Homo sapiens: one gene and its partner. The protein of the gene in region 2 interacts with the protein of the main gene of each other region in a pairwise test. Each region holds a gene or a part of one and is shown on either strand. Other genes may lie near its edges.

What was found.
Region 1: the proteins of MS4A3 (region 2) and CDKN3 interact in a two-hybrid assay, tested with the Homo sapiens proteins (one study listed by BioGRID).

What each region holds. Positions count from the first base shown.
Region 1 is NC_000014.9:54,406,837-54,410,660, reverse strand, and holds part of CDKN3 (cyclin-dependent kinase inhibitor 3), read right to left. Parts: intron 1,917-3,824; coding exon 1,872-1,916; intron 1-1,871. UniProt on the Homo sapiens protein: May play a role in cell cycle regulation. Dual specificity CC phosphatase active toward substrates containing either phosphotyrosine or phosphoserine residues. Dephosphorylates CDK2 at 'Thr-160' in a cyclin-dependent manner.
Region 2 is NC_000011.10:60,063,052-60,066,875, reverse strand, and holds part of MS4A3 (membrane-spanning 4-domains subfamily A member 3), read right to left. Parts: intron 2,615-3,824; coding exon 2,558-2,614; intron 1-2,557. UniProt on the Homo sapiens protein: Hematopoietic modulator for the G1-S cell cycle transition. Modulates the level of phosphorylation of cyclin-dependent kinase 2 (CDK2) through its direct binding to cyclin-dependent kinase inhibitor 3 (CDKN3/KAP).

The DNA of each region.
Region 1 (3,824 bases), on a different chromosome or scaffold from region 2:
AGTATTCTCCCTCATATCTGCACTGTAACACATCCTTGTGTATTTAATTTTATAGACTAGGTCGCCAGTAAATAAAACATTACCTGTATTAAACTTCTGTGACCTAGCTATTCTCATTATAATGATATGAATACTATAGGCATTCTATACACTAGGACTTCTTTATGGCAATATTAACTATTGAGCATTTGGTTTAAAATAAATAACTGGATGATCTAAGTGCTCCCAACTCCAGCCCTCTCCCTGTCCCTTAAATCCAAGGACATGTAGCTATTTAAGTACAAAGTACCTTCTCATGAACTAATCCCTGAGATGTACAGTACTATACATCTATTTGCCTTTTGTACACATTTGGTAATTTTTATTATCCAGTGATTTTCCAACTTTCTGAGAAAGGGCTAAGAAAGTATCTCAGGAACTGCTGCAGGGAGATTCTAGGTCTCCAATCAAACATATTGACCTGTTTTATGTACTGGATTCCATTTAAGATTTCATTGCAGAAAAAAAAGTATTTTGAAAAAAATTGGAAACTGTTTTTATAGAAAATGCTAAATGAATATGACATTCCAAAATGTACAAGACTGACTTTGAACCAATGATTTAAATTACATATATTTTGCTTATGACCTAAATGTTCTCCAAATAGAAATTTCCTAGCATGGTGGGTGTGTCTAAAGCAGAAAAGTTTTATAAATACTATAAGGGTCAACTATCTATTACTGTCTTTAAGTCTTTTTTTGGTAGGTAAGGAATACTTTTTTTTTTTTTTTGAGGCAGGGTCTTGCTCTGCCACCAGGTTGGAGTGCAGTAATGCAATCTCAGCTCATTGCACTCCAGCCTGGATGACAGAGCAAGACCTTGTGATCTCAGCACCATCTCAGCTCACTGCAGCTTTGACCTCCTGGGCTCAAGTGATCCTCCCATCTCAGCCTCCCAAGTTGCTGGGACTACAAGCACGCGCCATCATGCCCAGTTAATTTTTGTATTTTTTGCAGAGACAGGGTTTTGCCTTGTTGCCCAGGCTGGTCTCGAACTCCTGAGCTCAAGCGATCAACCCGCCTCGGCCTACCAAAATGCTGGGATTACAGGTGTGAACCACTGCACCTGACCAGGAATAAATTTTTAAAAGTACATTAGCAAACTGATGTTCTAGAATAACCACGAAAAGTTTTTAAGATTCAGAAAATCTATACTAGTTAGAATCAAGCAATATATACATTTTAATTTGCCATACTATAAGGATATCGGTAGGACTAGTAGGTTTGAGACATTCCAGGCCAATCAGAATAAAATCTTTTGAAAATCCACATTTGTTAGTATCATGCAATATGTAAATTCCAAATTGGGGCAGATTATGAGGATTATTAGACTTGTGGCTATAATGGTATGAACATCCTTGAGCAGGCAACAACCAGTTCCCATTCTGTCTTTTCCATCTAGATGCTGGCTCTCAAAATTTTCCATCCAGGATTCACAATTTCACTGCTAACTTGGAGTTCCCAGCTCATGTTTAATTTCTACTACCACAGTCAAGTCTGCAAGGAACAGTAAAGACCTGGGGGGAGCAATATGTCAGTTTCCTATTTACATACTTTTTTTCATGCCAACTTCTACATTCTAACCTCAAATGTAGTTTATATGTATAATATAACTACAACAATCAGTGAAAAGCAACTCCATGGTTAGGTAAATGATGGTCTTCACAAATACCTCTTTACATATCAGAATAAGTCTATAGTTTGGAACTTCACACAATATTGAAAACTTATTTTTATATTAAAAAAAAACTGATTTGTTCTTTTTGACAGAGAGTTTTTCAATGCTATTCATTTAAAAAACCCATGAGTGTGGTTGCGTGATATTATACCTACCTGTATCTTTTTGGACATTTCTTCTAACATCTTTAAATTTACAACCTATAAGTAATAATAAAGCAAGTAAAAAAGTCAGTTTTTCGTCATATGTAACAGGTATGTTTAAACACTTATATAGCTACTTTATAAAGTCATTTCACGTAATCATTTATATGTTTCAATTATATTTTGAATATGAATTTCAATTTCTTATATTTCTAGGAATATAATTACAGGGATTCATCCTAAGCAAGGATTCTGTATTCTGTGTTTCTTCTGTAACAAGTACCTGGTTGTAGTCCTCAGCCTCATTTGTACTCCAGGCTTTAAGCTTTATTAAGATTGGCAAAGTACAAGTGTAGGGCTGTGACTGCAGATCTGGAAGGGCTGAAAGGTAGATCTATGTTCCTTTAACTATAGTCCACCATGAGGGCTTCGCAAAGTGTGTTCCCCAGTGCTGATGGTCTGTGAAATTTACTTATTGCCCAGTATAGAGAATGATGTGTTAGTTGACCAAATACTTGTTCTAAATATATTGTTGGCACGGATGTGGTGAAAAGGGAACACTTTTACACTGCTGGTGGAAATGTAAACTAGTACAACCACTATGGAAAACAGTGTGGAGATGCCTTAAAGAACTAAAAGTAGAACTACCATTTGACCAGCAATCCTACAACTAGGTATATACCCAGAGGAAAAGAAGTCATTATATGAAAAAGATACTTGCACACACATGTTTATAGCAACATAATTTCCAACTGCAAAAATGTAAAACCAGCCCAAATGCCCATCAATTAATGAGTAGATAAAGAAAATGTGGGATTCCCGGGCAAGATGGCTGAATAGGAACAGCTCTGGTCTGCAGCTCCCAGCAAGACCAATGCAGAAAGAAGACGGGTGATTTCTGCATTTCCAACTGAGTGGTACTTGGAATGCCAGCAAGACAGAACCATTCACTCCCCTGGAAAGAGGGCTGAAGCCAGGGAGCTGAGTGGTCTTGCTCTGTGGATCCCACCCCCAACGGAGCCCAACAAGCTAAGATCCACTGGCTTGAAATTCTCACTGCCAGCACAGCAGTCTGAAGTCAACCTGGGATGTTCCAGCTTGGTGGGGGGAGGGGCATCCACCATTATTGAGGCTTGAGTGGGCAGTTTTCCCCTCACAGTGTAAACAAAGCCAGTCGGAAGTTTGAACTGGGTGCGGAACCCACCACAGTGTGGAAAAGCCATGGTAGCCAGACTGCCTCTCTAGATTCCTCCACTCTGGGCAGGGCATCTCTGAAAGAAAGGCAGCAGTTCCAGTCAGGGGCTTATAGATAAACTCCCTTCTCCCTAGGAGAGAGCACCTGGCGGAAGGGATGGCTGTGGGCACAGCTTCAGCAGACTTAAACATTTCTGCCTGCTGGCTCCGAAGAGAGCAACAGATCTCCCAGCACAGTGCTCGAGCTTTGCTAAGGGACAGACTGCCTCCTCAAGTGGGTCCCTGAACCCCGCGCCTCCTAACGGGGAGACACCTCCCAGCAGGGGTCGACAGACACTTCGTACAGGAGAACTCCAGCTGGCATCCGGCAGGTGCCCCTCTGGGACGAAACTTCCAGAGGAAGGAGCAGGCAGCAATCTTTGCTGTTCTGCAGCCTCCACTGGTGATACCCAGGAAAACAGGGTCTGGAGTGGACCTCGAGCAAACTCCAGCAGACCTGCAGAAGAGGGGCCTGACTGTTACAAGGAAAACTAACAAACAGAAAGCAATAGCATCAACATCAACGGAAAGGACGCCCACGCAGAAACCCCCATTCAAAAGTCACCAACATCAAAGACCAAACGTAGATAAATCCGCGAAGATGAGGAAAAACCAGAGCAAAAAGGCTGAAAATTCCAAAAACCAGAATACCTCTTCTCCTCCAAAGGATCACAACTCCTCGCCAGCAAGGGAACAAAACTGGACAGAGAATGAGTTTGATGAACTGACAGA
Region 2 (3,824 bases):
AACATTGATTGAATATTGTTTACACACCCACTGATATCCTAGATGCGAGGCTAACATCAATGACCAAAGAAAGATTTCTGTCCCCCACCCTCCATGGAGCTTATATTCTAGCAATAAAAACAAAGAAAAAAGTAAACATACTATAGGTAAATTACATAATATTTTTGAAAGTGATTAAGTACTAGGGGCTAACAGAATGGGATAAGGAGAATCTGGGAATCCAAAGAGAGGAGTGGGGGTTCATGATATTAAATAGAAATGACACTGGGGAGAGGCATGAAAGAGCTGTGGGTGCCAGCCAGGAGGATATCTGGGGGAATATCCTTGAAATTAGGGAAACACTCAAAATCCTGAGGCCAGAATCTTCTGGGGCAGCAAAGGGGTCAAGGGCGTTGGAGGCACGTAGTCAATACTAGGAAATGAAGAAGAAGGAAAGTTAACAGAGAGCCAAATCATGTGGGGCTCTGCAGATCATGAAAAGGAACTTGTTTCTAACTCTAAGAAAAATACAAAGCCAATGAAGGATTTGGAGCAAATAAATGATATACTTGGCTTTATGGTTTCAAGGGATCACTGTTTCTAGCAAGGCAAAGAGAAGTTCAACGATAAAAGCTAGAAGCCCAATTAGGAGAGACAAGGTGGATTGGATGAAATGTCATCAATAGAAAGATAAGAAAAGGTCAAAACTGGATATAATAATAGCTTGAAAGTAGAGCCAACATTATTTGCTGATAAATAGGATTCAGGATTGTGAAAGAAAGAAGACTCTTGGTTATTCTAAGGTGTTTGGTCTGGGAATCTGGAAGGATGACATTCCCATCAGCTGACATGAGGAGAAGGTTTGAGGAAGAAGACTGGGAGTTGAGCTTTGGATCTTTACATGCCAGTCTGATGATCAGGAGAGACACCTGGGCTGGAAATACTTATTTCAGGGTTGTGGGCATACAGATATTACTTGAAGTCATAAGAATGTGTGAGATCACAGAAGAAGTACGTATAGATTGAGAAGAGCAGGTGGCAAAGAATTCAGCTCTGGGGCACCAGAACATTAAAAGGTCAGAGACAAGGAGAGGAACCAGGAAAGGAGACTGAGATGGAGAAAGCAAAAGATGGGAGGAAAACCAGCCAAGCAATGTATGCTGGAAGCCAAGTGAGGAAATTCCTGGAAGGAGGAGTGGGCGACTAACTATGCTAAATGCTACTCATAGCTTAAGTTAGATGAGGAACAAGAGTTGACCGTTGTTTTAGCAGGGTGGAAGTTTTCAGTGATCTTAAAGACAGCAGTTACAGAAGGATAGTAGGGAATAAAATAAAGTCTTATTGAAGTGGGTTTGATTCAAACCGGTAGATGGAAATCAGAGAAAGAACATGATGATTCCTTTGAAGGAGTTTAGCTACAGAAGGAAAATACAAATTGTGCCTGTCCCTAGCAGGGAGAAATAATGTCAAGGTTTTCTTGTTTTGTTTTGTTTTGTTTTGTTTTTAAGTTGAGAACAGTAACTGGATGTTTACATGCTGATTAGAGATGGGGCAAGGTAACTCACGCCTGTAACCCCAGCCTTTTGGGAGGCTGAGGCAGGAGGACTGCTTGAGCCCAAGATTTTGAGACCAGCCTGGGCAACATGGCAAGATCCTGTCTCTACAAAAAAAAAAAAAAAAAAGACAAAAATTAGCCAGGGATGGTGGCACACACCTGTAGTCCCAGCTATGTGAGAGGCTGAGGTGGGAGGATTGCATGAGCCCTGGAAGGTGGAGGCTGTAGTGAGCTGTGACCACACCACTGCACTCCCATCTGGGTGACAGAGTGAGACTCGAAAAATATATATATAGCAGAGAGACAAAAATTAAAGTGATGCACTTGTGTGGGGAAAAAAAGAATGGAATCTTATACTCAAGTAGGGAGATCAGCTTTAAAGAAAATCACAAAATTTTCCTATGGTAAGAGGCTAGAAGAAAAAAATACATTGGTACAGATCTAGTCCATTAGTAGTGGAGGTCTGAAAATTCCCTTCTAATGGCTTCAGTTTTCTCAGAAGAGACAGAAAAATCATCAGCAGAGAGTAAGGATGACAGAAGTGGGATTGGTGTTTGAGGATACAATAAAATGGTAAAATAGCTATCCATGGAGGAGGGAAAGTGAATGAATGGAGTAGGAAAGTGGAGTATCAGTGGCTACGTGACTCACTAAGAACACATCATAGAGACTTAGCAGTTGTTTAGAATAGAAGTTTGGACTTTCAGTTGTCAAACTAGTTAGTGGTGGGAGTTCTTACTTCCAAATAATTAGAATTGGTCAAACTTGACAACACATAAAAATCAAGAAGACTTTTTCTAAGCTTCAAGTTCACCAATATTAAGAGCAAGCATCCCAGGAATGCATCCTCACAATGTATGTGATCTGCTGACCTACCATCTGAACACGTTAAGAAAACTAATATTTTGTGCATTAAATGATACTCAGTGTCTCAGTTGTATTCATGGACACTTACTGTCCTACTGTTTATGAATAATATATTTCTACTCCTCTGATCATAGAAAAAGAGGAAGTGCTACTTACCCATGTTCTTGTGGGTTTTATCCCTGCTACAACAGACAAGGTTCCTGAACTACAGAACTGTTTGAAAATAGGAAGGAAAACAGATAAAGGAATATTAAGTCTCAACCATTTTCTTCTTGGTCCTCCCTCAATTAGCAGATATCCAGCAATAGTCATACAAACCTCCCTTTTAAATTCACATCCTAGGACACAGAATTGTACTTGATGCTGCTCACTTTATTTATTTATTTATTTATTTATTTATTTATTTAGTCTTTCCATGCAATTAGTTTTATTCATTTTATTTTTTAAATTTTTTTTATTTCCATACGTTATTGGGGAACAGGTGGTGTTTGGTTACATGGATAAGTTCTTTAGTGGTAATTTGTGAGATTTTGGTGCACCCATCACCCAAACAGTATACACTGCACACAATTTGTAGCCTTTTATCCCTCACCTCCTTCCCACCTTTCCCCCTGAGTCCCCAAAGTCCATTGTGTCATTCTTATGCCTTTGCATCCTCATAGCTTAGCTCCCGCTTATAAGTGAGAACATATGATGTTTGATTTTCCACTCCTGAGTTACTTCACTTAGGATAATGGCTTATGCAAGGATTTAATGACGAAGAAGCCAAAAACAAATGCAATAAAATCAAAGATAAATAGCTGGGACCTAATTAAACTAAGGAGCTTTTGCACGGCAAAAGGAACAGTCAGCAGAGTAAACAGACAACCCATAGAGTGGGAGAAAATCTTCACAATCTATACATCTAACAAAGGACTAATATCCAGAATCTGCAATGAACCCAAACAAATCACCAAGAAATAAACAAACAATCCCATCAAAAAATGGGCTAAGGACATGAATAGACAATTCTCAAAAGAAGATATACAAATGGCCAACAAACATATCATTCACTTTTTAAAAATGAACCATCAGGGAAGTAATAAATAATCAAAACTGAATGAATACATTTTAAAATCACCCCTATTTCTTCTGATTGAATGTTGACCCAGATAATGGAAATGATTCTTCTGACTTTCAGACAGTAATCAGCAGACAAATTTCTTAACTCTCAAGCCAGGACTCTCTGCTGTACCACAAGGCAATTCATCAATACCCATTTTTCATTCAATTTTTTAAGTATCTATAAATGTAACATATAGTTATATATAAGATAATTTTTAGGACTTCATTTGTACTTGGCAAATGTGGTTTCTCTTAATCAGAAAGAGATTTTTGGCCTGGCATCAGGGCTCATGCCTGGCAATTCCAGCATTTTGGGAGG